Homo sapiens: one gene and its partners. The protein of the gene in region 3 interacts with the protein of the main gene of each other region in a pairwise test. Each region holds a gene or a part of one and is shown on either strand. Other genes may lie near its edges. The genes, in order: DOC2A, DMRT3, UBASH3B and RNF216.

Region 1 (4,139 bases), on a different chromosome or scaffold from region 3:
TCACCTCTATCACCACCCCCAGGCACTTGCTGGTTTGAGGCTCTCGAGGGGCTGAGGGGGGCAGGCCCTGAGTGCAGCATGGGTTGGCCCAGCTGTGCCCAGGGCCTCTTCCCCCTCCCCAGAGCTGCCCTGGGGGGCAAAGCCTAGTCTCCTGAGGCCCCAGTGCCTCCCTGACTAGTCCCCCTGTGTTTCTTCCCCCTGCTGCAGATGGCGGTGGGACCCCCCGACTGCCCTGTGGGAGGGCCGCTGACCTTCCCTGGCCGGGGTTCTGGGGCTGGGGTCGGGACAACCCTGACCCCCCTCCCACCCCCTAAGATGCCCCCCCCCACGATCCTGAGCACGGTCCCTCGGCAGATGTTCAGCGATGCAGGTAGCGGGGACGATGCCTTGGATGGAGACGATGACCTGGTGATCGACATCCCGGAGTGACCGTGACATCACGCCATGCCCACCACGGCCCCGCCCGGCGCCCTCCCCGTGCCAGCACACACGAGTCCAGCTTCCTCGGAGGTGTTTATTGATGCCCAGCTGCCATGCTCCGGCCACTGACACAACCAGAAAAGGCGTAAACATGCACGGGTGTCCCCCAGGAGGGTGGCAGGGGCCCTGCCTTCAAACCCCGGCCCCCTCCAGGGGACAGTTATTTAAACGAGTGGCCGGGAGCATCTGCCACCTGCTGGGGAGGCAGAGACCCTGCAATGGCCACCTCTTTAAAAGGGCAGCTGTACAGGGCTAGGTTTTTTCAATGAAGTTTCTGTATTAAAGGAGTGGCTCTGGGTTTGTTTTTTGTCCTTTTTTTTTGAGACATTCTCCTCCTCTGAACCTCCCCTAATCCGACCTCCTCCCTGTTGGGGGAGAGGGACGGGGCAGCGTGGAGAGGCAGGAGTGAGGAGCGCGGGGGCCTGGGGCCGGGCTCTGAGCACTGCCCGGGTGTGCAGATGATGGGGGGTTTGCATATTTGCAGGGACTAGCGAGTCAGGCAGGAGGTTTGCATATGTGAATATAGAACTCCGCAGCCCCTCATGAGCAGACAGACCCGGGTCACGGAGACTCACAAAAATAGGTAGTGCAGGGTGGGGGCAGCCCACCCTGTGTAAACGTGCAACACACTCGTGCGAAGGTTGGGTACTGGACCCGGCTCGATGGGCCTGTGCCGGGACACTGCTGTCCACTCAGGCTGAGGACAGAGCCCCGGCCGCAGGGGGCAGCTCACTGGTCAGGGTGTGCCAGCGCTCCAGGGCTGCGTCCGGCTGCTGCAGGCAGTCACTCCAGTGCTTCCGAGCCTCGCCTCGGGCACCTGGCCCCAGGGACACGCCACCTGGGGAGCAGGTGGGCAGGGTCAGGGCCACCTCCCTGCCACTTGCCCGCCCTCAACACCCGCAGCCAGCTCCTCCCTCACCAATGAAGTCATTGGATTTGCCAATGTCATAGTCCCAGACGGTGACTTCCAGGGTCTTGGTGGCCAGAGTGGAGAGCTCTATCTCGTAGAAAAACTCCTAGGGACAAGGCCGGCCACCCGTTCGTGAGCCAGCTCCCCAGCCCCTCCCTGGCCTCCCTCCATGTCCCGTCCCCTCCTGGGTACCTCGTTAAATTCTGGGTTGAGAGTCTTCTTCTTCACACACGTCTTATGCTTGGATTTCTTGTCCACATCGGGCCTCAGGTACCTGGGGGTGGGGTGGAGGGAGACGAACTGAGGGGTGAGGGACAGGCCAGGCCCAACTCAGGCCAGGGCAGGCTCCCTGGGGAGGAGAGGGTCAGAGCAAGGGCTCACGTCTTGACGTAGGGGTCCGAGTAACCGTTGACGTCCATGGCAGCCAGATGGGCGCAGCGCAAGATGCCTACCAGCAGTCCCCGGCGCCGCGAGCTGTAGCTGAGACTCAGCAGGATGCGGCCACGCTCCTCCAGCAGCCCCTGCCCCTGCTCCGCCTGCTCCAACTGCGGGGCACAGACTCAGGGTCAGCCTGGGCCCCTGCAGCCTCCCACCCACATGCATCCCCATCCCCATGAGGTGCCTCACCTCCTTCAGATAACAGGAGATGCCCCTCAGCGCCGCTGACATGGAAGAGGGGGACGCCAGCTGAGGGGGCAAAGAGAAGGTTCTGGAAGCCTGGCCTCCCCAGGGCCCCCTCCCCTGGCGCCCCTGCAGCCCCCACACAGACCGGGACCTGGCGCTCGAGGCAGATGTTAAAATGCTTCTTCTGCGAAGGCTTGAGGCGGCGGAGGGGCACGCGGATCTCCCCAATAAACTCATTGTGACTCAGCTTGTCCTCATCACAGACGGCGATCCTGGTCGGGAACTGCAGTGTCAGGGCCCCTGGGGTACCTGAGCCCCGTTCCGGGGTGTAGGAAGGGCCTTGGACCAGCCCAGCTCTGCCCTAAACACTACGTCTCATCTGGAAGACAGGCTGGCACTTGAGAAGGACAAGCAGATTTGCCCATTCCTCTGTCCCTCCCTCTGCAGCCACCCGGCTGTCCCTGGTCCATCAGGACATGCTCAGCCATTGTGGGAAGCCCTCAGAAATCTTGGAGCACGCTGCTCACTGCCTCCATTCAGGGCCTGGGGGCAGGAGCCGAACACCACGGTGGATGTGGCCATAGACACAGGCCGTGAGAGCTAGAAGGGCCTTGGAGCCTTGGGCAGCCAGACCAGTACCCCACGCCTCCTCGGGAACCCCCGTCCTTTTCCTGCATGCAGCAGAGAGCCAGCCCCGCAGGGACTCACTAAGAAATGATTGCTTTCCAGCCACCTGTCCTCCTGCAGTCCCTGCCCTGCCTCCGCAGTGACCCACTACCAGGCTGGGCATCTGTGGCATGGAGGATGGGCAGATCCCAGCCCTGCCACTTCTGAGCCACCTGTGTGACCTTGGGCAAGTCACTTGATCACCCTATGCCTCAATTCCCATCTGTAAATGGAGATAGTCAAGGGAAAGAAAGAAATGTGAAAATGCTAAGCCTGGGCTGGGCCCTGGTGAGCGCTCATTTTTTGGTCTCATTCTGGTTTTGGCCTCTGGCCTCCCCTCCATTCCACCCGAATAGCTGAAACCAAGGTGGCCTCTCTGCTGCACAGCCCTGACCATCAGGGAAGGTCCCAGCTGCAAATCCAAGCACAAAGGCAGAGGTCTCTCCAGAGCCTGGGTTTCGCTGCCCGCCACCTGACTTGAGGGAGTACTCTCCCTACATCTCCATCTCCTAGGATGACGGAGCAAGTTCCCTGTCCCTGAAGACTTCACTCCTTAAGAGATTTTAGGGGAACTCAAGGCACGGAAGGGGCAGACCAAAGCTGCAGAGGTCTGGCTTAAGCCAAGGGCTCTGAGAAGGGGTCTCGGCAACCCAGGAACGTTTTTGGGAGGGGGCAGAGCTTGGACTGAACCTCAGATGAGCGGAATTTAGGCTGGCAGGAAGGAGCTTTCCAGATAGAAAACAACAGGAAAAGTTCAGGAGTTGTGGAACTGGCCAGTTGGAAGAAGGGAGTCCTCTGTTTGAGGGGCAGAAGATACTTTTGTTTTGTTTTTGAGATGGAGTCTCCATCACCCAGGCTGGAGTGCAGTGGTGCGATCTCGGCTCACTGCAACCTCTGCCTCCCGGGTTCAAGTGATCCTCCTGCCTCAGCCTCTCGAGTAGCTGGGATTTACAGGTACATGCCACCACGCCCGGCTAATTTTTGTATTTTTAGTAGAGACGGGGGTTTCACCAAGTTGGCCAGGCTGGTCTTGAACTCCTGACCTCAAGTGATCCGCCCACCTCGGCCTCCCAAAGTGCTGGGATTACAGGTGTGAGCCACCACACCTGGCAGGCAGGAGATATTGAGGGGCAGGAATGGCAGGGAAGAATTTTGGCCTGCTGCCAAAGGGGCTAGGGAGCCGCTGATGGTTCTTGAGCATCAGAGAGGTACGGGCTTAATGGGACATAGATCAACCAACCAGCGGTTACAATGTCAGCTGTCCCCGAGCTGCTGCTGGGTGGTGGGGAGGGGGGCCCTCACCTGAGCACCTTGTGCGTGATGTCGTCATCTGTGATCCCGCTGTAAGTCAGGTCCTCATTCCACACGGGATTCAGTGTGTTCCTCTGAGTCTTCGTTTTTAGCTTATTGGCCTGGGATGTGGGGATGAAAGGTTCTCAATACCTGTCCTCCAGCCCCA
Region 2 (8,275 bases), on a different chromosome or scaffold from region 3:
CTTCACAGCTTATGTATTAAAGAGGTCCTTTGCCCCGCAAAAAGACTAACCACATTTCAAAGTCAAAGTTCACAAAGTAATAGATCTACATTGCCAGCAGATATTGAAAGATTTCTGATGGTCTGTATACTTAATGTACATGTGGAACTACCATTCCAATAGAGTTCTGCTTACTCTCTGCACTTAGTTTTGCTTACTCTCTGCACTTATTCAGGAGTAGTTCTGATATGCTTCTAAATACATATGGAATGTTATACACAAATACATTATTAGAACAACTGCAAAAAGGGTATAATACCTATAGCAACAGGCAGTCTCAGTGAGCAGTTTTCTTCAGCTTAAACCCCAAATAGACTTTATTTCTACAAGCACTGTGTAGAATGGATCCACTTGTATGCCTGTCTTCCTAAACAATCATCTATTATTTTCCTACCTTTCTCCCCACTCCCCATCAGAGTGGTGATTTGCTTTTTTTTAAAAAAATGGGAATTATGGGGTCACAGCAAGTGAAAGAAGAAAACAAAAGTTGTGTACATCAATGTACAAGGTATGGGGGGGTGGGGGTGACCAGCTGGAAACTGAGCCCTTGGTCCCTGATGCCTCGGTCCCCCAAAGTCCTCACTTGGACCTCGCCTTGTGATAAATCCTATTCTCCTTTGCAATTACTTGTTTTCAATTCGGAAGGCTCAGGCTATCCCTGAGTGCTAAGTAGGAGTAAAACAGCACAGCTCTGCTTTGTCCAGTTGAGATCCGTTTCCTTTTTCTATTCTCCCAAAGCACGTATCCTGCTGCCGCTGCCTACTCTGCCTTCCTGCCTGCCCTCACTCCTCCTCCTCCTGGGGTTGTGTTTTTAGTTTTGTGACTCTTTAGAAATCATGAACTTTAGCTATCCCAAAGAATACTCTGAAGAACACAGGATGTGAAAGGCATCTCCTTGGATAAAAACCACAGAACCCAATGCCCGATCACAGGAGTGCTGCTGAGTTAACCTCTGATGTTAACTCAGGCCTCTGCCCTAGTCCTGGGGGAAACGGAACCAGAGAAGCTGGAAATGGAAAAAAATTAAGAAAATATATTGGTACAAATCCAATTCTAGAGCTGAGACCAAACTCTTCCTTGTTATTTGTTCAAACCTATGGGAGAAAAATAATAAAACCTTTTTCTCCTCCCTCCTCTTCGTCTGTGACAAATCCATAAATATAAAAAGATGAGACAGACAAAAGAGAGACAACTGGCGATCATTTCTGAGAAACGTTTATATGCTAACTTGGATTAAATATCCACAAAATCCAAGTTCGGCAAACTCTCTTCAGGCTTTAAAATTCCCAGCTCTACTGTCACACAGGCTGTTCTCAGAGCTTCAGGCCTGGAAAGCATGGCGGAAAGACAGGGCAGCAGAACTCCACCTGCCAGTCACCCGTTGACTCACCATGAAACAGGTGAGTCCGCCTCACTTCCTCAGCTCCACAGGATCCAGACAAAGCAGTCCTGGGCTCCTGAAAGCCTTTCTCCGAAGCTAGGGGTACCGTCTTTAGGGAGTTGGCAGGTCAGTGTAGGTACCAGTTTTGCCACAGTTCTACTTACAGGAGGGCTCTGGACCTTCCCACTCCTAATTCCAGCATGCCCCCTTCCGGGAGAAGGTGGGCTGTGTTCCTTTGCACATTTGCCCCAGTTAAGGAGAAACACCAAACACATATCCACTGAATTCCAAGAGCCATCAAAAGAGCTCTTGAGCTGGGCAGAACCGCAAGCTAGAAATTCCCCAGGAAGAGAGAGACTAAGAGACTCAACTCAGGCCTGCCAAGCTCAGGAGGCCTGGATGGAAACGGATGGGTGGTGGGGGATCAGATTTTTTGTATTCCTTTAAACCACGAAGACAGCTGAGGGCAGCCTGGGGAACAGTGTTAAAGGATCTAGGAGGTTCTGCAAAGGAGTGAATTCTGGGCGCATCAGATTCTTTTCCCGCTATCAGCTCACAAGCCTTTCCGGACCCTTTTACTATCATTGCTAAATGGAACTTATTTCACCAGTTACAAGAGTCTGGAGGCCACGGAGCAAAGCTAGAAAGGCCAGGGTTCTGAGAGTTGGATACTTGTCCTCACTCAAATTTTCCTGGGCCCTGGGCAGGGCCGGGCCGGCCGAGAAGCACAGCCAGCTCGACTCAGCCGAGTGTTGGCCTTGGCTCCTTCCCTACACCTACCTACCCATTCCAACCCCCAAATGGCAAGGACCTCTAAAGCCTGCAGCCAGGAAAATCCGACCCCACCGTAGTGAGTGTGCGCACGTGGGTTTTAATTTTGTCCTGTCTCAACTCCGTTGTCTCCCTGCTCAATCTGACACGTTCCGAACCCTTCAACCTGGGAAGGCACCTGGCGATACTGACGCACAGTCCCGTCGTTTGGCTGCCCGGAGGCGCCTTCCCTGCGGGCGCGAGTGCCACTCGCGCTGGGTCCAGACTCAGCCGGCTTCTCCCGGGAGAGGAAGCCCCGGCCTGGCGGAGAGTAGGAAGGAAAGCCCCGACAGGCCCACGTCCCAAAACTTTGCCTCCAGTCCTCCCAAGTGGAGCTGCAGCTGGCACTCCGAAGTTGCCCCCGCGCCCGGCCAAACTCCCGCACCTCAGACGCTCTTACCTGGCTTGGCGAGCTGCGCCTGCAGAGCCCCGGGCTGCGGCTCGGCAGTCCAACGCAGCGCGGCGGCCGCGGCCAACTCGGCAGCAGGGCGCGGCGGCTGCGGCTGCGACGGCTGAGAGGCTGGCGGCGGCTGCGGGGCGGCGACGGCGTCCCCCGGCGGCGGGGGCCCTGGCAGAGCGCGCAGCGAGTCGGGGATGAGGCTCTCCAAGCTCTCGTTGGCCTGCTGCCGGCGCAGCGCCACCTGCGCAGCCATGACCCGCTGCCGCTCGATGATGAGGATGCACTTCTCGCAGGTGCAGTCCTTGAAGCGGCAGTAACGCTTGTGGCCCTTGAGCCAGGACAGGACGCCATGGTTGCGGCAGCGCGCGCACTTGGGCGTGCGCTGCAGGGGCGCCCGTGGCGGCTGCGACACCGGGCCGCCCATGTACAGGTAGGGGGAGCCGTAGCCGTTCATGCCCCGGGCTCCCGAATGAGTTGGCAGCCTGGCTGCGGGAGAGGGCCAGGGAGCGCTGGACGGCGGGGCTGCGAGGCCCGCTCAGGGGCGGCCTCCGGGCGACGCGGCCCTTGGTCCCGCAGCCCCGGTGGTCGTGTGTGCTCCGGGGCGGCCGGAGGTGCCGCAGTCGTCTCTCCAGCTCCCTTCGCGCTCACAGCTCGGCCTCCCAGCTCACGCCCAGCCAACGCCGACGCGGGCCTCTGCCTTGGGCGCGCAGCCGGGTCGGCACGTCCTCCTTCGCGGAGGCGCTGCGGCGGCTGCAAGGAGCCGGCGACAGCTCTGATTAAGGTCTGAGCCAGCTCTTCTGCAGCTCCCTCGTGAGCCGGCCGGACCCAACACCTCCGCCGCCCTCCCCCAACCCCTCCTCCTTCCCACCGCCACCCCCGCCCCTGGGGTCCCTGTCTCCTTGCACTCCCCGCCCCACGCCTTCCTCCTCCTTTGCGCCCCTCGGGTGCCTGCACTTCACCTTCCTTGCCACCTGCAGCCAGGCCACTCTCGCGGGGGCGCTCGCGGCCCCCTCCTCCAAGCCCTCTCCGCTACCCCAGCCCGCGGCTGGAGACTGCGGCGCTCCAGAACGCGGCGGTGCTCGCGGGGCGGAGAAGGGGAGGACCAGCGGGAGTGAGGGTGGGGGTGCCTGTAAGCGAGTGAGGTGGCCGCTCCGCTTCTCTCTCTTCTCCTCCCTCCAGTCCAGATCTGGCCGCGTTTTTCCGAGCCCAAGGCCGCTTTTATCCCGACATTTGGCCGCAGAAGCTCAGCTCCGGGAGAACTCGAACCTACGGGAGTGTTGCGGTTGCACCCCGGACCTGGGTGGAGTTTAGGATAGGGGAGTGAAGTGATGTTGGTTTAGGAAAGTTAGGCTCTTTTCGTAATTTCCTTTTAGAACGTATTTTTTTCTCTTTTGTTGCTTTAGAAGAAAATGGTTTTGGAGATCTGCCGGCCCAAGGATGACAAGCCATTTTGCAGGCGAATTTTACTTTTCTACCCTCCTGTCCATGTTTTAATATAAAACAGTATCCTGAAAGGTCAGGGACGTACGTGCTCCTGTAAAGGATTTGTTAAGCGCCGGGTATAAACTTTCAAGGGGCAGACACAGAAGCCACATTGGCGCCCCCAAAGTTACCGATATCCTCTTCCCTCGCTCCCAGCAGCTACTGGAAGCAAACGGAGGTCTTGCGCCAGCCACTCAGTTCAAATCCCCACGGATTCTGTGATTCAGTTATGGATATGGGATGGGGCCACTTTTTCACCTCCTTAACCCATAGACCCCAGTCATAGATGTCTTGGGGGAGAGGGTCCTTCACAAGATGACAGCAGAAAACTTTGTTTAGATTATTTGCGTGTTCCCATTCTCCCAGGAGTAGCGGGCTTGGCCTAGTGCAGACTATCGCTATATATGCACAAAGAAGGCCCTCCACCCTCGCACCTCCCCACTGCCCATCAGCAAACAAGCAAAAACCAAAAAACAAACAAACAAACAAAACAAGTGGATACACTGCAGGGCAGCACAATAGCTCTATGCGAAGCGGGGCAGTTCCAGAGCCTTCGGTGGATGCGCTTCTGAGAGCGTGCACCAAGCCCATCTCCTGGTGGGGAATCAAATGCTAGATGAGAGCGTAGGCAAGTCCGCTGCAATGTCCGACCCCTCATGGGCACAGAGGCCCTTGTCCCCTCGGGGAGGCCGCTTTTCTCTGTACTGCCCTGGAAGTAAGCAAGCAACCTGAAAACTTTCCTCTGGTGTTTGCCATGAATTCAAGGGAAGCACCTCCAGGCGTTCTAGCAGCCAACCCTCTGCCCAGAAGGCTGATTTGCGGAGAGGAGGGTTGAAAACCGAACCCCAGTTGTGTGTTTCCCTTGAAGCCCTTAGCTGTTCCCGTTTCATACGCGTCCGGGAGGTGGGGATCGCGGGACACTGACCTGGTAGAGTGTGGACAAGAAGCTCTAGCATTCGAGTGCTAACCCTGGGAGGCCATCCTCCAAAGCCGCGTGGGGTAGGGACCCCTCGGTCTTGCCCCTTCCCCCACCACTTTAATCCTTCCTCTAGTCTCAACCTTCTCTAGGAAAACAAGCCCTAAAATACAACTGGAAGGAATTTTGTAAGCTCTGGGGACGGGAGGCAGAGGTCGCCCCCAGCCCTGTAGGCCCGAGGCTAGGAAATGGGGAGCTGGACGCGAGTCATTTAACGTGCTGCGATATAGAGGGCCTCAAATGACACCTTAACTGAAAACTATTGCGCTGAAACCTCCGGATCTCTTGGAAACGTGGGGACCAACGACTTTTTTCAAAACCAAATTTCTTCCGATTTTCTTCAAACAGTGAAACGAGGAAGTATAAAGAACTTGAGTATGAATAAATTTTTAAAAGGAAAGCAGAAGAGCTCTGCACCAGGTTTGTGGGGGCACTTTCACTACCAAGGCGACCCCTTTTCCCCCGTCGGTCACCTAGCCACCCTATCTCGTTGCCACTCAAACAGTCTGGCATTTGGTCCCGGGGGCCCGTTTCACTCCGGTGCACATCGGGGGCTGAGATCTAAATACTCATTTGATATAGTGCAGTAATCCTTTTCTCATATTTGATGGGAATGTTTTCCATATCCCAGTATTTGACAACATCTCCCTATAGGGACAGGTTTGTATTTATGTTGGTAAAATGTCCCCTGCCTCAAAGTCTATTGTAACCCAACACCTGACAACCCCGAGTCCCATTTCTGTTTGCAGAAAGGGTTTATTCAAGCACATAATGGGATCCCAGCAGAAAGCCTTTCAGAACAAGGGGCTGTGGTAAACTTCACCACATGAACTCCGTTTCCAGGGCTATTAAGCTTTTAATTGGAAAATAGCAGAGGAAATTTCAAGGTGACTATAACGTGTTAGCAGTTAGTGCAGAGAAGAAAAGCCGAAGCGGGAATGAATGTAGAAAGCATATGGTCCAAATCACATTTAGGAGGAGCGGCCTGCTTCTACTAAGTCCCAGTAGCTTACACACTTATGGGAAAAATCATCAAAGAAATGGGAAAGGGAAGGGGGAGGATTACAAGTAAATGTAACCTCACTAGACTAGATCCATTGGTGCTCTCCTGTGGATGGTGTGTTCTCAAACCGCAATTAACTGAGTAGAATTCTGGCAGATAATCGTGGAAGAGGAAAAAACAATGTGCGTATGTGGGTCTTTCTCGGCACACACAATCGCTGGGTGTGTGTACATGTAAAAGCTCAGGATGCAGGTGCCCTTGCTGAGAAAGTGAGGACTCCAGATCTGGGAGTCCTGGTATGTGCTCCTCATCCCAACTAATACTCAATCAAAACGGCAGTTTCCGATTGTCCCGGATGTATAACACATCAGCAAATTCTCTGCTGGATTCTCATGGAAGGGGAGGTCAGGGTTCCTATTTCACTGTTTTCATCGCGACCACGATGATGTCAGTGCAGGCAGACGCTGGAAGCCTGAGCGTGAGGAACCCCTGTGAAAACAGAAAAACTTGTCCCCTCTTCCTGTGCGTGAACTACTCAGCTCTCACCTGGTCAGCTTCTCGACCTCGCTCTTCGGCCCGCTTCAAATTGAAAGGAGTTGGGGGAATGTCCAGCCAGGCAGTGGGGCATCCAGCAATCAATTTCTTTAGATGGCAATAATGTCTTGGTTCTCCCTCAGTTGGCTGGGGACAGACTCATGCAAACCCCCCATGAGATCCCCGAAGCCGCCCTCCGGGGCGAGGGGTGGAAAGCAGAGGCCGCTTGGGGTCGGGGAGACGACTGAACCCCGGGGTCACCGGCCCGGGGATACCGCTGAACAGGGGAAGGTCCTGGACCGCTGTTCCCACATAATTTTGGTAGGGGAAGAGACGGGTCGCAGCCTGAGGCCTGCTCCAGATCCCCACGTGCCGAGGCCTTTGGGGACAAACAGGGAGAGCAGAACGGCCTGTGACCTCGCTGGCCCTAAGCCGACCGGGCGGGAGAAGCCAGGTCCTTCATGTTCTCGAACTCTCGAAGCCAGCAGCGGCTCACGCCTAGGAGTTAGCGCTCTCCCGCTTGCGGATTCCTCAGACCCAGCCTGGATACACGACCGCGCCAGCCTTTCGCGGGGTTCAGGTGTAGCTACAGCACGGCTTCATCCGAGGGCCCAGCGCCGCGACCTCAGCCCCGCGCTTTCGAAGGGAACTGGAAAAGCGCTAGCCTGGGGCGCTCCCCGCTGGGCCGCGGTTCCTGGAGGCCCTGGGGGCAGCCGCTCGTCCGACTCCAGCTCCCTGTCGGGAGCGCCCGCGGCGGAGCCGACGCCCAGTAGTAGGAGGGCGTGAGTCCGGCTGGGGACGTCGGCCGCTTCCCCACACCGTCCTGGAAGGGAGCGTCGCAGACCCTGTCCACCTTAAGTGCAAAGGAAAAAAGGCACGTCTCCACCAACGTACAAATGAGCAGCGCTGATGTTAAGTCTTAAGATAACCTTTACCCTGCGACTTTAGAACACAAGGGCTGAAAAAATAATTTTAGGTAATCTGAGCAACATTCAAGGGAGAAGGAAAGTTTCTTCTCCCCAGAGCGTTGGCTCTCAGGGATCTGGGGCACTTCCTCCTCGGGACAAGCCCCTTTTCCAGAAAACCTCACCAGCCTCCCGCCTCCTCCTTTGCTGTCCCTGAACAAAGCCCAGCCGCGGGGAAAGCAAGCGGATTTGCGCGCTTCTGGGAAAGCGTTCGGATTCAGGGGCCCGGGAGTAATGAAGGGAAACGGCCCGCGCGGCCGACACCCCAGGAACAGGGGGCGCGAACTTTGCCTGGAGGCCAGGCCGAGGCGCCCTGCGGAGGCGCGGGAACTGGGAGGAGGGGAGGCTGAGGGGCGCCACACCAGGACGAAAGTAGGCCCGGGCCCTCTCCTCACTTTCCCAGGAGCCTCCTGGGCGGGGCAACTTCCGGAGTGCTCGGGGCCCCGCCCCCCAGACACGCCCCGCTTTCCCCTCCCAGCCCGGCCTCGCGGGCCGCGGCTTTCAACTGTGGAAAAGTTCCGTTTGCTGGTTTTTTGGACCGGGGCCGGGGTGGGGACTGGAGGGGCGCCGAGGGGGAGGAACTTAAACAGGTGGTGGAGTGGAGGCGACCCGCTCCCGAGGGCAGGCGGGTGGGGGAGGGGTAAGGGGGCGACTGTTGAAGGTGAGAATCGCGAGCGGTTGGCAG
Region 3 (8,125 bases):
ATTTGAGACTGGATTCCAATAGTCTTGGATTTAAACGATAACTCTCCCACTTACCAGCTGTGTGGCCTTGGCAAAGTTGCATTACCTCTCTGAGCCTCTGTTTGCTCATCTAGAAAATGGAACTAATAATTGCACTTACCTCATAAGGTTGTTGGGAAGACTGCAATACAGAGCTTAGCTTTACATGGTTCAGAGTCTGGTGTATAGCGGTGACTATAAAATCGCCATTTGCATAATGATGATTATTCTCTTTTTTCTATCTTGTGTTTGCCAGTCCTCACTTAGTGCTCATCAAAGGAAATGTGTCTTCCATAAAAGCAATCCTGTAGATGAACTGCACTTTCCTATTTAACCCCAGAGGTCAAATGACTCAAGGAGGCAGAGCCCAGCTTCCTTGTAAGACAGACACAGACCTTCTCTCTCTCCTAACCCAAGAGAGACATCAGGAGGTAGAGCCCCAGGGGGATGTCAAGCATGGCCTGGCTGGCATGGTGGGAGTTGCCCAGGGGATCCAGGCAACAAGTCATGACTGGGGGTCAATGATTTTGACAACACTCCCTGCCAAGTGCTTCTCAGTTCTCTGAGTCCCTCCTAAGGAAATATGTTCTCTCCACACTAACTGGAGTGTCTTACTTGGTTCTGAGTTATGAACCAAGACAAGTTGATGAAGCTGGGTGAGCTGCCTGGCCGCTTGGGCTTAGCACAGGCCTGGTGTGTTGCAGGGAGAAGCCAGCTCTCCCGATGCTTGAGATGTTCTGGATGTCAGGCCCGGCTTCCTCCCTCCACTGTTCTGAGCAAGAAGCATCTGACTGTTTTCTTACTGGAACTGGCAGCTCCACGCTGTCTCAGAGTGAGTCAGGTCCTTTGATTATAATGACAGTTAAGAAGGGAAAGAGGCTGGCATTCGTCTTGCCATGGGAGACGAAGGAGGGAGAGAAGGGATCCTATCAGTATCTTCACAGCTGCGATAAAGAAACAAACAGATATGTACAAGAACGATTCTAGGTAGCCAGACATTTTGCACCCTGAAGCTTTGATGAGTCAGACAATAAAACTGGATTTTCTTTTTTTTTTTCTTTTTTTTTTTTTTAATTTTTTCTGAGATGGAGTCTCACTCTGTTGCCCAGGCTGGAGCACAGTGGTGCAATGTTAGCTCACTGTAACCTCTGCCTTCTGGGTTCCAGTGATTCTCCTGCCTCAGCCCCCCGAGTAGCCAGGACTACAGGTGTGTGCCACCACGCCCAGCTAATTTTTGTATTTTGAATAGAGACGGGGTTTCACCACGTTGGCCAGGCTGGTCTTGAACTCCTAACCCCAGGTGATCTGCCTGCCTCGGCCTCTCAAAGTGCTAGAATTACAGACGTGAGCCGCTGTGCCCAGCCAAACTGGATTTTCTTGAACTGTGTGATGTTTGGGAGGGTCTTAGTTTAAAATAAAGTAGAATAGCTGGTCTATTATACTGTGTGAACGGCACAAGATTTCCTTGGGCTACAGTTACTTAAATTTTACTGTAACAGGTTTCACTTGGCAACATACGCAGATGGACTGATGCTGCTTTGTTGAACTGTAGGTTCCTGGGTCCCACCCCTGACCTACTGAGTCACAATGTGTGAGGAGCAGAACCCCAGCACGAGTGTATTTTTTTTAAGTCTCCTGGTGATTCTGATATGCACAAGGGTTCAAAATCAGTTTTTCAGGGCATGAGACTTCTGAGACTTCGTTTATAAGTAGATAGAATGAGTCTATCACTTCTAGTGAAAAAGGAGCCACTTCTGAAAGTGAAGGAACAAAAATTTACTAACAACCAGTTTGCTGTATTATATTGGTGAATATAAAAAGGTATTTTCAAAAATAAAATTATGGGCCAGGTGCAGTGGCTCACTCCTGTAATCCCAGCATGACTTTGGGAGGCCAAGCAGGCAGATCACCTGAGGTCAGGAGTTTGAGACCAGCCTGGCCAACATGGTGAAACCCCATCTCTACTAAAAATACAAAAATTAGCCGGGCGTGGTGACGCACGCCTGTAATCCCAGCTACTCCAGAGGCTGAGGCAGGAAAATCGCTTGAACCTGCAGGGTGGAGGTTGCAGTGAGCCCAGATCATGTCATTGCCCTTCAGCCTGGGCGACAAGAGCAATACTCCGTCTCTAAAATAAAATAAAATTCTGATAATACAATGTTAAAAGTGAATAATCCAGAACAGGTGGTAGCCTAAACGGGTTGCCTCATCAACAGATGCAAGCCAGGAGTATATGGAGCAAACTGGGATGGATGGCTACCCAAATTGTAAAGAAGCAAGAAATCTATAAAATTTAAATGTTTCCCCTGGACTCTGCTCAGTGATTCCAAAGATGTTCACTGGATTTGCCTAACAACCATATTTACATTGCAATGTTTATTAGATAAAGCTTTGTGGAAGTCTTAACTATTGACAATAATTTAAGCTTGGCAGGTTTTGACTGTCTTCCTTTCAGCAAGACCTCTTTTAGGCTTCTGTAGCTATAGTGTTACACTCAGAAATGACAGTTCTTGGCTCACAGCTCTAAACGTCTGGTGAGAATGGTCTTCTCTGAAATAATTCTATTTGTAATCATCTTGTTGGAGGCGTGATTGAGGGGGAGATAGGGTTTGGAGACCGAAGAGGGTAGAATAGGGGACTTTGGCACAAAGTTTCCTTGACTGTTAGGAGCCACTGGCTGAGGTGGAGATGGTGAAAATACCCCCCATCACTCTTCACTTCAGATGGAAATTACCACGGGAAATATTAAAGGCAACAGGGATCGTAGATTTCTTTTGAACCAGAAAAATAGCTGCAAACAGATCATTGATACGTTGTTATTCTTGAACTTGTCTTTGGTGCCAACCATGCATGGCACAAAATCACTAGGATCCATCCCTGCCCAAAGGAATGAATATATCTGTCCTCAGTGCAGAAATCCATCTACCTCTAATTTATTTATTTACTTATTTTTATTCTTATTTCTTTTTGAGACGGGGTTTCGCCGTATCGCCCGGGCTGGAGTGCAGTGGTGCGATCTTGGCTCACTACAACCTCCACCTCCCAGGTTCAAGAGATTCTCATACCTCAGCCTCCCTAGCAGCTGGGACTACAGGCACGCACAACCACGCCCAGCTGATTTTTTGTATTTTTAGTAGAGATGGGATTTCGCCACATTGGCCAGGCTGGTCTCAAACTCCTGACCTCAGGTGATCCGCCTGCCTCGGCGTCCCAAAGTGCAGGTGTGATCACCACACCCGGCCTACCTCTAATTTATTAACTGCAAGACTTCAGTATAAAACAAGGTATTTTTCCCTTAGGAATGAGGCCACTCCTGCTCAGCATCCCCCATCATTGTGCTACCCACAGAGGGCTTTGAGTTAACTCCCACACTCCTGTTGAGCCCAGGAGGAAGTGCTGATGACTGCTGGCCAGAGCAGTTAACACCTTCCTTATCTTCCTCTGCAGTTCTTATTCAATCTTAAATACATCGTCATCCAACTCTCTCACGTTTGGGGATGGAGTATTGGAGAGGCGGCCTTATGAGGACCAGGGGCTCGGGGAGACGACTCCTCTTACTATCATCTGCCAGCCCATGCAGGTAAGGCTGATTGCTAGGGTCACACCCCCAACTCTAACCAGGATTCACTGAGAACCTATTTATTAAGCATGAGGCCTTGCCCTTGCTGTCTCCAAAGCTTCCACGATCTCTTGGGAAGAAAGTACACCAAATTATAAAAGATATACAAAAATTCAAGGCTAGGAAGAGTCAGATGAGCAGTACTGACAGTTACTTCCAGCATTTGAACCTAGGTTCATAAGGAACGTTGTTCCACAGAGATAGGAGGAGAGTTTATCTCTAAAGTAGGAATAATGCCCATAGTTGTATCTGTTTTGTAGGTTGTTACAAAGATTAAAGAAAATAATAAAATTAGGCTCTTAGCACCATAACTGGCATATAATGAGTGCTCAGTATGTGTTAACTTTTTCAAGGAAGGTTGGAGATGGAAGGAGGCAGGGAGTCGTTGTTGAACAGTACAAATAGAGGCAAGCTGAAAGTTCAAGCATGTTGAGGATCAAGAGAGTAACCATTGTGGCTGGAGCCCAGGATTTAAATTAAGGAACAACAGGAAAAGAGATGGGAAGGATCATGCCACCGTTCCACATATTAACCACGTCAGGGCAACTAGAAGCAAATGTGAAGTGCTGGCCCGCGCTAAGGAAACTGGAAAAGCTGACTGCATCAGAAAGACGGAATGCAGAAACAGCTGTAAGGTTCCATCCAGCAGTTATAGAAGCCAAAGTCATTTGGACAAGCCTTTGACTAGATTTGCCTATGTCATCACCCAGAGGTAGCAGTTGTCTCATTTTGGGGATCATATATATAGTCAGACAGCAGAGGCTACATAGTGATTAGAATAGGAAAACAGGGTCTCATTACTGGAGCAGACCATGAGGACCATGTGGTCTGTCCACACACTTTAGAGAAGAGGTAGACACATTTGTGATCACAGAAGTCCTCACTCCCTGAAGAAGTTGATGAATTGCCCCTTTTTGGGGGGAAGGTGCCCCACTAGATGGCTCTCTCTACATGAATGGCTAGTTTTACCTCTGAGCTGTAACTTAAAGTGGACGTCATATTTTAGTGGCCACTTTAATGGCCAAATGCTACTCCTACAAAGAGCAGCCGTAGCAACAATAATGCCCTTTTCATAACCCTTCCTATTTTATAAAGCACATGCAGTTTATCTTATTCCAGCCTCCAAATAACTTATGAGGTCTGTAGGACGAGTCTTACTGTCCTCACCAAGTCATACCTTGGCAGAACTTTGGTAGTAGAGCTCAGCTCACCTGGCACCTGGCTCCAAGACATGTCCACTTTGCCATGTGTGTCTTCACTAATAGCCTTTCTTTCTCTGCAGCCGCTGAGGGTCAACAGCCAGCCCGGCCCCCAGAAGCGATGCCTTTTTGTGTGTCGGCATGGTGAGAGGATGGATGTTGTGTTTGGGAAGTACTGGCTGTCCCAGTGCTTCGATGCCAAAGGTGAGTTGGTGGTGGGCCTGCTCAGCACTGCCATACCCATAGTGGCCTCTAGGCGGCACAGTCAAGCTACAGTTATCTAGATGGAGTCATTCATAGTTTTGCGTACTATAGAAGATGTCTGTCATGTGTAAGCCCCTCCTGATTGTCTTGAGCTTTAGAGAAGAAGTAAGTGTTCTTGTCCCCATTCTATAAACTGGGATACCACGGACCAAAGAAGACAGATGTCTTGCCCCAGGTCATATGGCAAAGTCAGCAGCAGAAACGTGCCCTGATCCTATGGCCAGAGTTCCTGCCATTAAATCTCCCTGGCTCGCTCGGTTCCATTTTCATTTGAGTAGCATTTGAAGATACAGAGGCTTGCTTAACCAGGGAATCTCACCTGCTTTAAAGTGCCTGGTTATTACCTTCACTGAGAAACTACCTCATGTCACTTTTGTCAGTAGAATGGAAAAGTGGATTCCAAGTCACTTTATGAAACAAAATGTCAGCCTTGATATTTTCTATCAGCTCCAGAGAGCTCAGTGTGATCTCTTTGGCCAAGAAGGAATGGGGGTGGAGAGTGTCAGGATCAGTAAGGGAGTCCCAAGTAAACAAGAAATGTATGTATCCTCTGTCTAACCTCTTTGTTTTTCAGGCCGCTACATACGCACCAACCTGAACATGCCTCATAGTTTACCTCAGCGGAGTGGTGGTTTCCGAGATTACGAGAAAGATGCTCCCATCACTGTGTTTGGATGCATGCAAGCAAGACTAGTGGGTAAGTATCCTGGAGTGACTGCACTCCAGGCATTTCTTGCCTCCTCCTTCAAAACACTGGTACCATGGATATGCAAGACACTTCCTGTGGGTTTCTATAACTTTCCTACAAGTTTCCTCAATTCAAAAGGAACTTACTACACAACCATTAAGTTTAGGACACTGTGCTCAGCCCTGGGTTGGTTGACCAAAGTGAATGAGGTGTGGTCCTTATTGAGGAGCACGTGATCCAGTAATGGCGTGGGTTACTGTGCTCACTCTTGGATGTAGCAGACAGGTCAGCTTCTAGTTCAAGACAGCAGCATCTGCCAAACATGGCTGTGGAAGAGGACAAGAGTGAAGAAGATGGACCCTGGACTTGCTGAATTTGTAAAGGCCAACTGATCCTTTGAAGATGCCTAGCTCTTTGCAAGCCCATTCCATTACTGGCACGGGGAGATAGTATTTTCTGTTCAGTCACTTAGCAGATATTTAGTGCTCACTTACTTTGTGCAAGGTATTGGACTAGGGGAACCCAAGTGTGAGTCAGGGAAACAAACTTATGTGTGGATAAATATCATACAATATGATATACATAGAGCTATGCACTAATGTGTATGTATTGATTGCATGCATCCAGACATAGTGATATGCATAGAGCTATGCATGGTCACAGAATATTATGGGAACACAAAAAGACATCTAAGAGTGAAGAGGTGAGCTGAGAGCTGAAGTAGAAGTTAGCTGGGCAAAGAAGGAATAGGAGTGAGGAAATGGCATTCTCAGTGGGAGGGACCACATAAAGAGTCTTAGGCTTGAGAAACAGCCTCAGGAATGCAGGGGAAACAAAGTGTCTTGTGTCTAGAGTATAAATTGTGAGGCAAGGCAGAGATGAGGCTAGCAAGATGGATAAAGGCAAGTTCATGGAAGACCTTGGCCACCATATTAAGGTGTTTGGATTTAATCCAGTAGACAAAATAACTGGATTCCAGGCCAGGCGTGATGGCTCTCACCTATAATCTAGCACTTTGAGAGGCTGAGGCAAGAGGATTGCTTGAGACCTGGAGTTCGAGGCTGCACTGAGGTATGATCACACCCCTGCACTCCAGCCTGAGTGACAGAGCAAAACCCTATCTCTAAAAATTAAATTAAGAATAATAATAAATTTTTTAAAGAAGTGGATTTTATGAGGATAGCATTAAAGTATGAGGTGTTGGGATTTATCTCTGGTATCTAAAAATATGACATGTTGAGATTTTGGTTAGCACAGAATAAAATTAAAACAAGACCTAATATTCATAAAATAAATCCTCTTTCACAAACTTGAAGCCAAAGTATTGTCCTGTTTCTAAATATCTCCTAGCTAAAGCCTTTACCACTTGTTAGCACCAGAGGGAAGGGAAAGAAAAGACAAGAAGGGGCCAGGTGTGGTGGCTCACGCCTGTAATCCCAGCACTTTGGGAGGCTGAGGTAGGCGGATCACGAGGTCAAGAGATCGAGACCATTCTGGCCAACATGTTGAAACCCCATCTCTACTAAAAGTACAAAAATTAGCTGGGTGTGGTGGTGCGCGCCTGTACTCCCAGCTACTCGGGAGGCTGAGGCAGGAGAATGGCTTGAACCCGGGAGGCAGAGGTTGCAGTGAGCCGAGATCACACCACTGCACTCCAGCCTGGCGACAGAGCGAGACTCCATCTCAAAAAAAAAAAAAAAAGACAAGACAAGAAGGGCTCTGTCGCTTGCTCTCATAGGAACGCCGATGAGGGGTTTTGTTAGAAACTAACAAAGGCTGAAACTACTGGCTCTATGTGAGCCCCAGTTAGGAAAGAGGGGTTTACAGGAGCTTACTGCTTGGCCCCCTCTCACACTGCGGGTCAAGGTGAGACTGAGTAAATCCATCAGACTGATTTTTTTGTGGTTTTCTTTGCAGGTGAAGCCTTATTAGAGAGCAATACCATTATCGATCATGTCTATTGCTCCCCGTCCCTTCGCTGCGTTCAGACTGCACACAATATCTTGAAAGGTAAGACTTGCAGGTTGACAAAAACAAGTAGTCCATCCCTCTCTTTCTAGGCAGCCCCACACATAAATTATCTTAGAGCCATGGGACATTTGCCAGTTGAAAGCTTTGAATCTGGAATGAAGCAAGGATTCTTTCAGAAGGCGATCTTTGCACAAGTCACAAAAACATACTCTGGGCCGGGCACGGTGGCTCATGCCTGTAATCCCAGCACTTTGGGAGGCTGAGGCAGGCAGATCACCTGAGGTCAGGAGTTCGAGACCAGCCTCAACATGGAGAAACCCCGTCTCTAGTAAAAATACAAAATTAGCCAGGTGTAGTGCTGCATGC
Region 4 (8,125 bases), on a different chromosome or scaffold from region 3:
ACCCCGTCTCTACTAAAAATACAAAAAATTAGCTGGGCATAGTGGCGGGTGCCTGTAATCCCCACTACTCGGGAGGCTGAAGCAGGAGAATCGCTTGAACCTGGGAGGTGGAGGTTGCAGTGAGCCAAGATCGTGCCACTGCACTCCAGTTCGGGCAACAGAGTGAGACTCCATCTCAAAAAAAAAAAAAAAAAAAAAAAGAATGAGTTGGTGATTGGATCCGTTGCTATAGTTAATAAAAGGAGTCAATAGCCTGGTACATTACTTGAGGTTGCTGCTTTAGTTATAGCTTCAATAGTCCCTTAAAATAAAGCGCAGACCTCGATAGACCCATTCACACTCCTTATGACAAGAACAAAATTCAACTTTTGAAAGTTTTTTGGGTAACATCTCTCATACTCCTTATCCTTGCTGTTTATAATCACATTAGCATCTGAGTACAGATGTTCTAGTTCCCTTTGCACCATGGGATTGAATATGATAACTTTATATAAAGAATTACTCTAAAGAATACCAGAAAAAAAACACGAAAACCTCGCTGTTTTAGGTATGGATTAATACTGTGTTAGTATCTTGAGCTAGATTTATATAGCACGAAACAGCATATCATTGTTTTATGGCCCCTAAAATGGGTTGCTTTACCTCAGAATTTGTGTGGGGGGTGGCAGAGAGATGAGGATGGGAGACAAGGCTCCCCCTCTCCTTAAGTGCAGGACATTTCATGTGTGTTTCTTGACTGCCTGCAGGATGGCCAGCTGATTGAGTGTCGCTGCTGCTATGGGGAATTTCCATTCGAGGAGCTGACGCAGTGCGCAGATGCTCACTTGTTCTGCAAAGAGTGTCTCATCAGATATGCCCAAGAGGCAGTCTTTGGATCTGGAAAGGTAAGAACTGTGTAATATGTCCCATGTATATAGGACACATTCCTGGAGTCTAAGGAGACCATGTTGATAGATAAGTGTAAGTGCCTCTTTGAGGGTGAGGTGGAGTTCTGCTGGTATGCTTATGTGTACATTACCTGATGTATGTGATTATGTGGGTTCTCTGAGCACAGCAGATTTCTTTTCAGGGCACAGTAGAATTCTTCCACACTCCCACGCCTAGCCGCAGAGGAGCACCTCCTTCGTTCATCATCTTATTTGTATTCAGAGGGAAGGTTACCTCAGAAAGAGAGAACCTTGCAGCCTATTGGATTAAATATATATTAAAATAACATAACTTACTTTACACAAGATCATATTTCTCTCTCCAAAGTGAGTTTCTCTGGACACCAGCATAACAAACACAGTATGGGAATTTTACATTGTTTTACACCACCGAGTTTGTGGTATTTTGTTCCAGCAGCAATAGAAAACTAACACAGTGATTAAGAAGATGACTTTTTGCCCGGGTGGCTCACGCCTGTAATCCCAGCACTTTGGGAGGCCGAGGTAGGCGGATCACCTGAGGTCAGGAGTTCAAGACCAGCCTGACCAACATGGAGAAACCCCATCTCTACTAAAAATACAAGATTAGCCAGACCTGGTGGCGCATGCCTATAATCTCAGCTACTGGGGAGGCTGAGGCAGGAGAATTGGTTGAATCTGGGAGGCAGAGGTTGTGGTGAGTTGAGATCGTGCCATTGCACTCCAGCCTGGGCAACAAGAGTGAAACTCCATCTCTAAAAAAGAAAAATAGGCCAGGCGCTGTGGCTTATGCCTGTAATCCCAGCACTTTGGGAGGCTAAGTTGGGTGGATCACAAGATTAGGAGTTCGAGACTAGCCTGGCCAACATGGTGAAACCCCATCTCTGCTAAAAATACAAAAATTAGCCAGGTGTGGTGGTGGGTGCCTGTAATCCAGCTACTCGGGAGGCTTAGTGAGCTGAGATCGCACCACTGCACTCCAGCCTTGGTGACAGGGCGAGACTCTGTCTCAGAAAAATAAATAAATAAAGTTTATGTTTTTTCAAAGAGCGTGACCTTTGGAGTCAAGCAGAATGCATTGGGCCATGCCCCCATCAGCCATACTAGCCCTGTGATCTTGAGCAATTTAAATTCCTTAAGCCACTGTTTCTTCCTCTGTAAAATGGAAATAATCATAGCATTGTTTTGAAAGCTAAATGAGGTGATGAGTTTAATGAACTTATTGTTTGACACATGGTAAATGCCTCATAAATTTTAGCTAGTTATTTTTAAAATGTCGTCTTTTTCCATTTGTTTTCTTTGGTGTTTGTCTTTCATGTGGGAAGCATTCCTCATGTCTGACACTTTTTGTTCATGTTAAAGAGCTGTTTGAAAGCTGTGTGAGTAGTGGGGCTTATAGACCAGTGAGTTTGACTCTAGGTGCATAGGAGCCAGTTAGCTTTTATATTATGAACCTGAATGGCTCTGAAGTCTCTTACCTGGGGTGATTCAGTCTGCCTCCTGCCTGGTGGGTGTGAGCCCATTTTCCAACATTCTGAAACTGAGGGGGAGGAAAGGTCTGGAGAGTTCTCTGTTCATTATGCAGACTCCATTTCAGACTCTGACTTCAGGCCACCCCTCAGCTCTGCTCTCCTCTATGAGTGGTTTCCAGTCCAGAGCCGTGTGGTCCAGCTGTTCAGGAGATCTTCCTCATTTCTCTCAGAGTCAGCCAATTCCTTCTGAAGCGGGTAGGAACTAGAGGCTCCACCCATGTCCCTGTTTTCAGTTTATTACTTTGAGTCCCTGCCCCTCCCCACCACTCAGCTCTGCTTTCCAGAGGTTCTCCAGCTTTCTAATATCTGTAGAGGGGAACAACTTCTCCCCAGCATCTCCTTTTCAGACCCTAAGCTATGGGCTTCTGTGTGTGGTCTGCTAAGCCATTTGCCCTTCCGCCACTTTCAGTCTTTGTGGATTGTGATTTGGGCTAATAGAGGTCCTTTAGTGATATCAAAGATGTACTGGATTTTTGTTTCATGGTTTCCATGATTTAAGTGTGATTTCTCAGAGATGAACAGGCAGAGAGATCCTTGCTATGTTGTCTCAGGATCTATGTTTTTAACCACTGACGCTTTTTATTTTTCTATAAATGGTATTGATTTTTTTTTCTTTGCCTTTTCGCCTTTTTCTAGTTGGAGCTCAGCTGCATGGAAGGCAGCTGCACGTGTTCGTTCCCAACCAGTGAGCTGGAGAAGGTGCTCCCCCAGACCATCCTGTATAAGTACTATGAGCGAAAAGCCGAGGAGGAGGTTGCGGCAGCCTACGCCGACGAGCTTGTCAGGTTCGTTCTCAGGCAGAGCGTGCCATCTGCCAACTCTTCCCCATTGTGAAAACTACCTGGGCACTTGCATCAGATGATGAAAATTGTGTTTATCTTCCAGGTTTTTTGACATTTCTTGCTGAGAAATAAGATTATCAATAATTTTACTTATTTATTTTTATTTTTTACGCCTCAGAACCATTGAGTAACCAGTAATTCTATTAATGGAAAAATCTGCCCCTCAAACTTCTTTTTTTTTTTTTGAGGTGGATTCTCGCTCTGTCGCCCAGGCTGGAGTACAGTGGTGCAATCTTGGCTCACTACAACCTCCGCCTCCTGAGTTCAAGCAATTCTCATGCCTCAGCCTCCTGAGTAGCCTGGATTACAGGCGTGCACCACCACATTCCAGCTTATTTTTAGTAGAGACGAGGTTTTGCCATGTTGGCCAGGCTGGTCTCCAACTCCTGACCTCAAATGATCCACCCACCTCAGCCTCCCAAAGTGCTGGGACTACAGGCGTGAGCCACCGCGCCCAGACTGTAGCTCAAACTTCTGTCTACATATCTTGGCACCCCCAAATCTTCTGGCCCGTAGATACAATCATGGTGCCCTGGGCTGGAGGGAAATCGGTATATGCAAGGAGTTCTCATTAAGGTTGGGACGTGTTTATTGAGTGGTTTATATTCAGTCAGGACCTCATGTGGTGCTTATGTTTCCTGATAAGAGCCAGCACAAAGAAGAGGTTCAATCTGTGTTTTTAAGGAAAACTAAGGAGTATAAAGGGGATGTGAATGTCCAGCTCAAAACTCCATCTTCATATGAACAGCCACATGGAGCTGGAACCAGATCAGGCTTTAATGTTTGAAGTAATGTCAGTTCTGCTGTTCTGACTCTAGGTGCCCGTCCTGTAGCTTTCCGGCTCTGTTGGACAGTGATGTGAAGAGGTTCAGCTGTCCTAATCCTCACTGCCGAAAGGTAGGGAGGCACATTTTTTTCTAGATGTATATTGAATTATGGTATTATGGGCTGCCCTCATGGCCCAAATATCTGCTGTTTACCTGACTGCTGATGTATAAGAAGGATTTGAGTGCTTTCCTTTTCATAAGCAAATGAGGACGAGTACTTTGTGAGTAACGGTTGACATGGTTACTGAGATGGCAGCCACTCTTGCCACTCCAGTTACAAAGCTCTGGATTCCTATTTTATATCATCTTCTTTAGGACAGATACTATAATGTAAAGTGGGAAGTGTTTAGTTTTTCTTCCACTGTGTCAACATTTTTCTTGCTTGCTCTCTTCACCACCTGTGCTCAAATAGCCCCTGCTACCCCTCCCTCCCCACACACACACCTTTTGCCATTTTCAAAGTCCAAACGACGCTTCTTTGATTGAGGAACTGGGCATCTTAGTGGCATCTCCATCACATCTGGTAGGTTATTTATTTGACTGTTTCTCCTCATGAGAACTGACTATATTACGTGGGAGCAGAGCTGTCTAGGTGCATTACTGTTGCAGATCTTTGTTCCCTTTAACTTGGCGCCCTGTGAACTAAGAATGTCTTAAAATCTTTCAGCTATTTAGAAGCCACTTAGAGTTTTTAGTGAATATTAGCATCCACCTAGACAAATACGCTCTAAGCCATTTTTCTAAAATTGCATGATTAGAGTTGAACACTGCAATATCTTTGCCTTGGGGAGAGTAAAGAAATTAAGGTAGAGATTAGAAAAGGAAGAATAAACTAAACTAATGGATCAAAACTTTATTTCTTTTGTTTTCAGCATTAATATTTCTGGCCATTTTATATGTTCGCACCCCAGGCTGTTGCTATAACAATTGTCACAACAGTCGCTGGCATCTTGCAGCTCTTAAGAAAGCAGAGTGCTAGCGTGTCCCTTGTGTGCTTCCAGTGGGTCAGGTGTTGGACTGCCTGGGGAGGTGATGCCTACGCTAAGATGCAGCAGATAAGGAGGAAGTAGCCAAAGGATGGAAAGGGTGGGAGTGGAGTGGAGATGGAGAAATGTTCTAGGCCCCGGGAGTGGCAGCAATGTGGACGCTTACTGGTGCTAGGAGTGTGAAGGAGGCTCATAAGCTGAGTAGGGGCAGGCCCATGCAGCACACTGTCCTGAGGTGGGGAGAGATAAAATATAAGGAAAGTCTACTTGCCTATTGAGTAGTCCAGGTGAGAAATGTACAGCACTGCACAGCCTCTTGGGTCTTCATGAGTTGCTTAGAAGGAGCTGGGAACTACATTTCCTGGTAAGGTTTCAAAGAAGGTCTGCCAGTGAAAGTGCTTATGTACAATTGGGAAGGCCAAAGAAGAGGAGAGACCATTATTCTCTGAGGACGTTTTTTGTTTTTGTTTTTGTTTTTAAGTTTTGAGGCAGGGTCTCACTCTGTTGCCCAGGCTGGAGTGCAGTGGCACGATCTCAGCTCACTGCAACCTCCGCCTCCTGGCTTCAAGCAGTTCTCCTGCCTCAGCCTCCCAAGTAGCTGGGATCACAGGTATGCGCCACCACGCCTGACTGATTTTTATATTTTTAGTAGAGATGAGGTTTCACCATGTTGGCCAGGCTGGTCCTGAACTCCTGGCCTCCAGTGATCCGCCCACCTCAGCCTTCCAAAGTGCTGGTATTACAGGTGTAAGCCACCACCCCCAGCCTGAAGACATTTAAAAGCAGCTGCATTGGTTGCCCAGTGGCTCATGCCTGTAATCCCAGCACTTTGAGAGGCTGAGGCAGGAGGATCTCTTGAGACTAGGAGTCCGAGACCAGCCTGAGCAACATAGACCCTATCTCTACAAAAAAAATTTTAAAACTCAGCTAGGCATGGTGGTGTGTGCCCATAGTCCTAGCTACTTAAGAGACTGAGGCAGGACAATCAGTTGAGCCCAGGAGATTGAGGCTGCACTGAGCCATGATTGCGCCACTGCACTCTAGCCTGGACAACAGACTAAGACTCTGTCTTTAAAAGAAAAAAATTTAAAAAATAAAAGCCTGAGGGCACACATGAGTCTGGAACAGCATCTAGTGAGTATCAACTTGGCATGTTGGTGGGAGCTTCCCAGGGGCTCTTAAGATCCCAAATAGGAACACCACATATGTTTTTGTTTGTCTATGGGAGGAATATACATGGCCTGCTGAACTTGAAGGTAGCCATGTAGCTTCTTGTGGTCAGTGAAACATGTGAGTAGTTAGATCACTTGCAGAAAAAGCCGTAAAGGCATGTGGTGTGGGGTAGTGTCAAGATGACAGAAGAGAAAGCTCCAGACCCTCTTTTTCCCATAGAGAGAACAGTTCAACAACAACGGAAGGACCATTTCTCTCTGTGAGAAATCCAGAAACCAGTTGCATCAAAGGCTGGGGAATTTGTGACGCTGGCTCTCCAGAGTTCCTCCCCCTGGCACAGCACCATGTGATTGGGAGGAAGCTCCCAACTCCTGGCATCTTTCTGGGGAGGAAAAAGAAGACTGGAACATATATCTAATATTCAGACCTTTCAGGAGGCTGCTCAAGGGACTGGTTTCTGTCTTGTCTCACAGGAAAGGGCACCAGGTTGGGGACCTCTGAGGACAAATGGGATGGTGAAACTAGCACGTACTGACTCCTCATTGCCCTCTCCCTGCTCTTCTCGGGAGGGAAGGAGTTGGAGCATGAGTCCAGCATTCTAGGTTTTCTGGAGTCTGCCCAAGACTCTCGTTCCTGTCTCACTCGATGAAGCACTGATGGGACCTGGCATGGTCTAGGTCCCTGGGGGCTGCTGAGAACAAGAGAAAGCTGGGTGGTTTGTACTGCGCCAGAGGACCCACGGTACAGTAGGCAGAGTCCAGTGCACCTCGAAGGCTGCTTTTTGGGTCCAGGGGAAGAGTAGAGCATGTGTTCAGCATTTGGGCTTCTCAAGGGGCTGCCTGAGGGACTGGCTTCTGTCTCACCCAACTCACTGCTGGCAGAACCCAACCTACTCTAGATGCCTTGGAGCTGCTGAGGCCAAAAAAGAGCTGGGCAGCTTACAGCAGCTCCAGAGGGCCTGTGATACCTCAGACAGGCACCAGAAGAAGCAAGAGCTTGCAAGCTCCTGAAAAAAGGAAAACAAAAGCCTGAGCACTTATATTAGCCTACGATTTAGCAAAATCTTCTTGCAGGAAGCCTATTTTAGAATAAAGTATGAGTATCTCATGTAATTTATTGAGTACTGTACTGAAAGTGAAAAAGAGAATGATTGTATGGGTACTTGAATTACAGTTTCTACTGAATGTGTATCACTTTCACACCACAGTAAAGTCAAAAAGTGTAAAACCATTGTAAGTTGGAGACCATCTGTATATGCACCCGACATCAGTGCACCCAAATATGTGAAGCAAATATTGACAGCCGAAGGGAAAAATAACACAAAAATAGTAGGAGATTGCAATACCTCACTTTCAATCATTGTTAGCACCACCAGGCAGAAGATTAGTAAGGAAACAGCTGACTTGAACAACACTATAGACCTAACAGACACATACAAAATATTCTAGCCAACAGGCACAGAAAACACTTTTTCTCCTCTGTTGCGCATGGAACATTTTCCAGGATGGAGAATATTAGATCATAATACAGGTCTTAACAAATTTAAGATCAAAATCATACCAAGTATCTTTTCCAGCCACAAGGCGATACACTTAGAAATCACAAACAGCAAGAAAATTCACAAAGTATGAGAACTAAACACACTGTCCGGGCATGGTGGCTCCCACCTGTCATCCTGGCACTGTGGGAGGCCGAGGCAAGTGGATCACCTGAATTCTGGAGTTCGAGACCAGCCTGGCCAACATGGCAAAACTCTGTCTCTACTAAAAATACAAAAATTTAGCTGGGTGTGGTTGCGTGCGCCTGTAATCGCAGCTACTTGGGAGGCTGAGGCAGGAGAGAATCGCTTGAACCAGGGAG

The links.
Region 1: the proteins of UBASH3B (region 3) and DOC2A interact in binary tests that used the Homo sapiens proteins (3 or more experiments, as listed by UniProt).
Region 2: the proteins of UBASH3B (region 3) and DMRT3 interact in binary tests that used the Homo sapiens proteins (3 or more experiments, as listed by UniProt).
Region 4: the proteins of UBASH3B (region 3) and RNF216 interact in binary tests that used the Homo sapiens proteins (3 or more experiments, as listed by UniProt).

What each region holds. Positions count from the first base shown.
Region 1 is NC_000016.10:30,005,014-30,009,152, forward strand, and holds the end of DOC2A (double C2-like domain-containing protein alpha), read right to left. Parts: intron 4,093-4,139; coding exon 3,983-4,092; intron 2,287-3,982; coding exon 2,160-2,286; intron 2,078-2,159; coding exon 2,018-2,077; intron 1,936-2,017; coding exon 1,772-1,935; intron 1,665-1,771; coding exon 1,583-1,664; intron 1,497-1,582; coding exon 1,400-1,496; intron 1,319-1,399; coding exon 1,173-1,318; 3' UTR 501-1,172; downstream 1-500. Other genes in the region: INO80E (INO80 complex subunit E), read left to right, coding at 1-38. UniProt on the Homo sapiens protein: Calcium sensor which most probably regulates fusion of vesicles with membranes. Binds calcium and phospholipids. May be involved in calcium dependent neurotransmitter release through the interaction with UNC13A.
Region 2 is NC_000009.12:971,811-980,085, reverse strand, and holds the start of DMRT3 (doublesex- and mab-3-related transcription factor 3), read right to left. Parts: upstream 3,432-8,275; 5' UTR 3,085-3,431; coding exon 2,631-3,084; intron 1-2,630. UniProt on the Homo sapiens protein: Probable transcription factor that plays a role in configuring the spinal circuits controlling stride in vertebrates.
Region 3 is NC_000011.10:122,791,237-122,799,361, forward strand, and holds part of UBASH3B (ubiquitin-associated and SH3 domain-containing protein B), read left to right. Parts: intron 1-3,465; coding exon 3,466-3,598; intron 3,599-4,919; coding exon 4,920-5,040; intron 5,041-5,674; coding exon 5,675-5,797; intron 5,798-7,705; coding exon 7,706-7,798; intron 7,799-8,125. UniProt on the Homo sapiens protein: Interferes with CBL-mediated down-regulation and degradation of receptor-type tyrosine kinases. Promotes accumulation of activated target receptors, such as T-cell receptors and EGFR, on the cell surface.
Region 4 is NC_000007.14:5,707,812-5,715,936, reverse strand, and holds part of RNF216 (E3 ubiquitin-protein ligase RNF216), read left to right. Parts: intron 1-746; coding exon 747-884; intron 885-3,073; coding exon 3,074-3,222; intron 3,223-4,026; exon of another isoform or gene 4,027-4,097; coding exon 4,098-4,176; intron 4,177-8,125.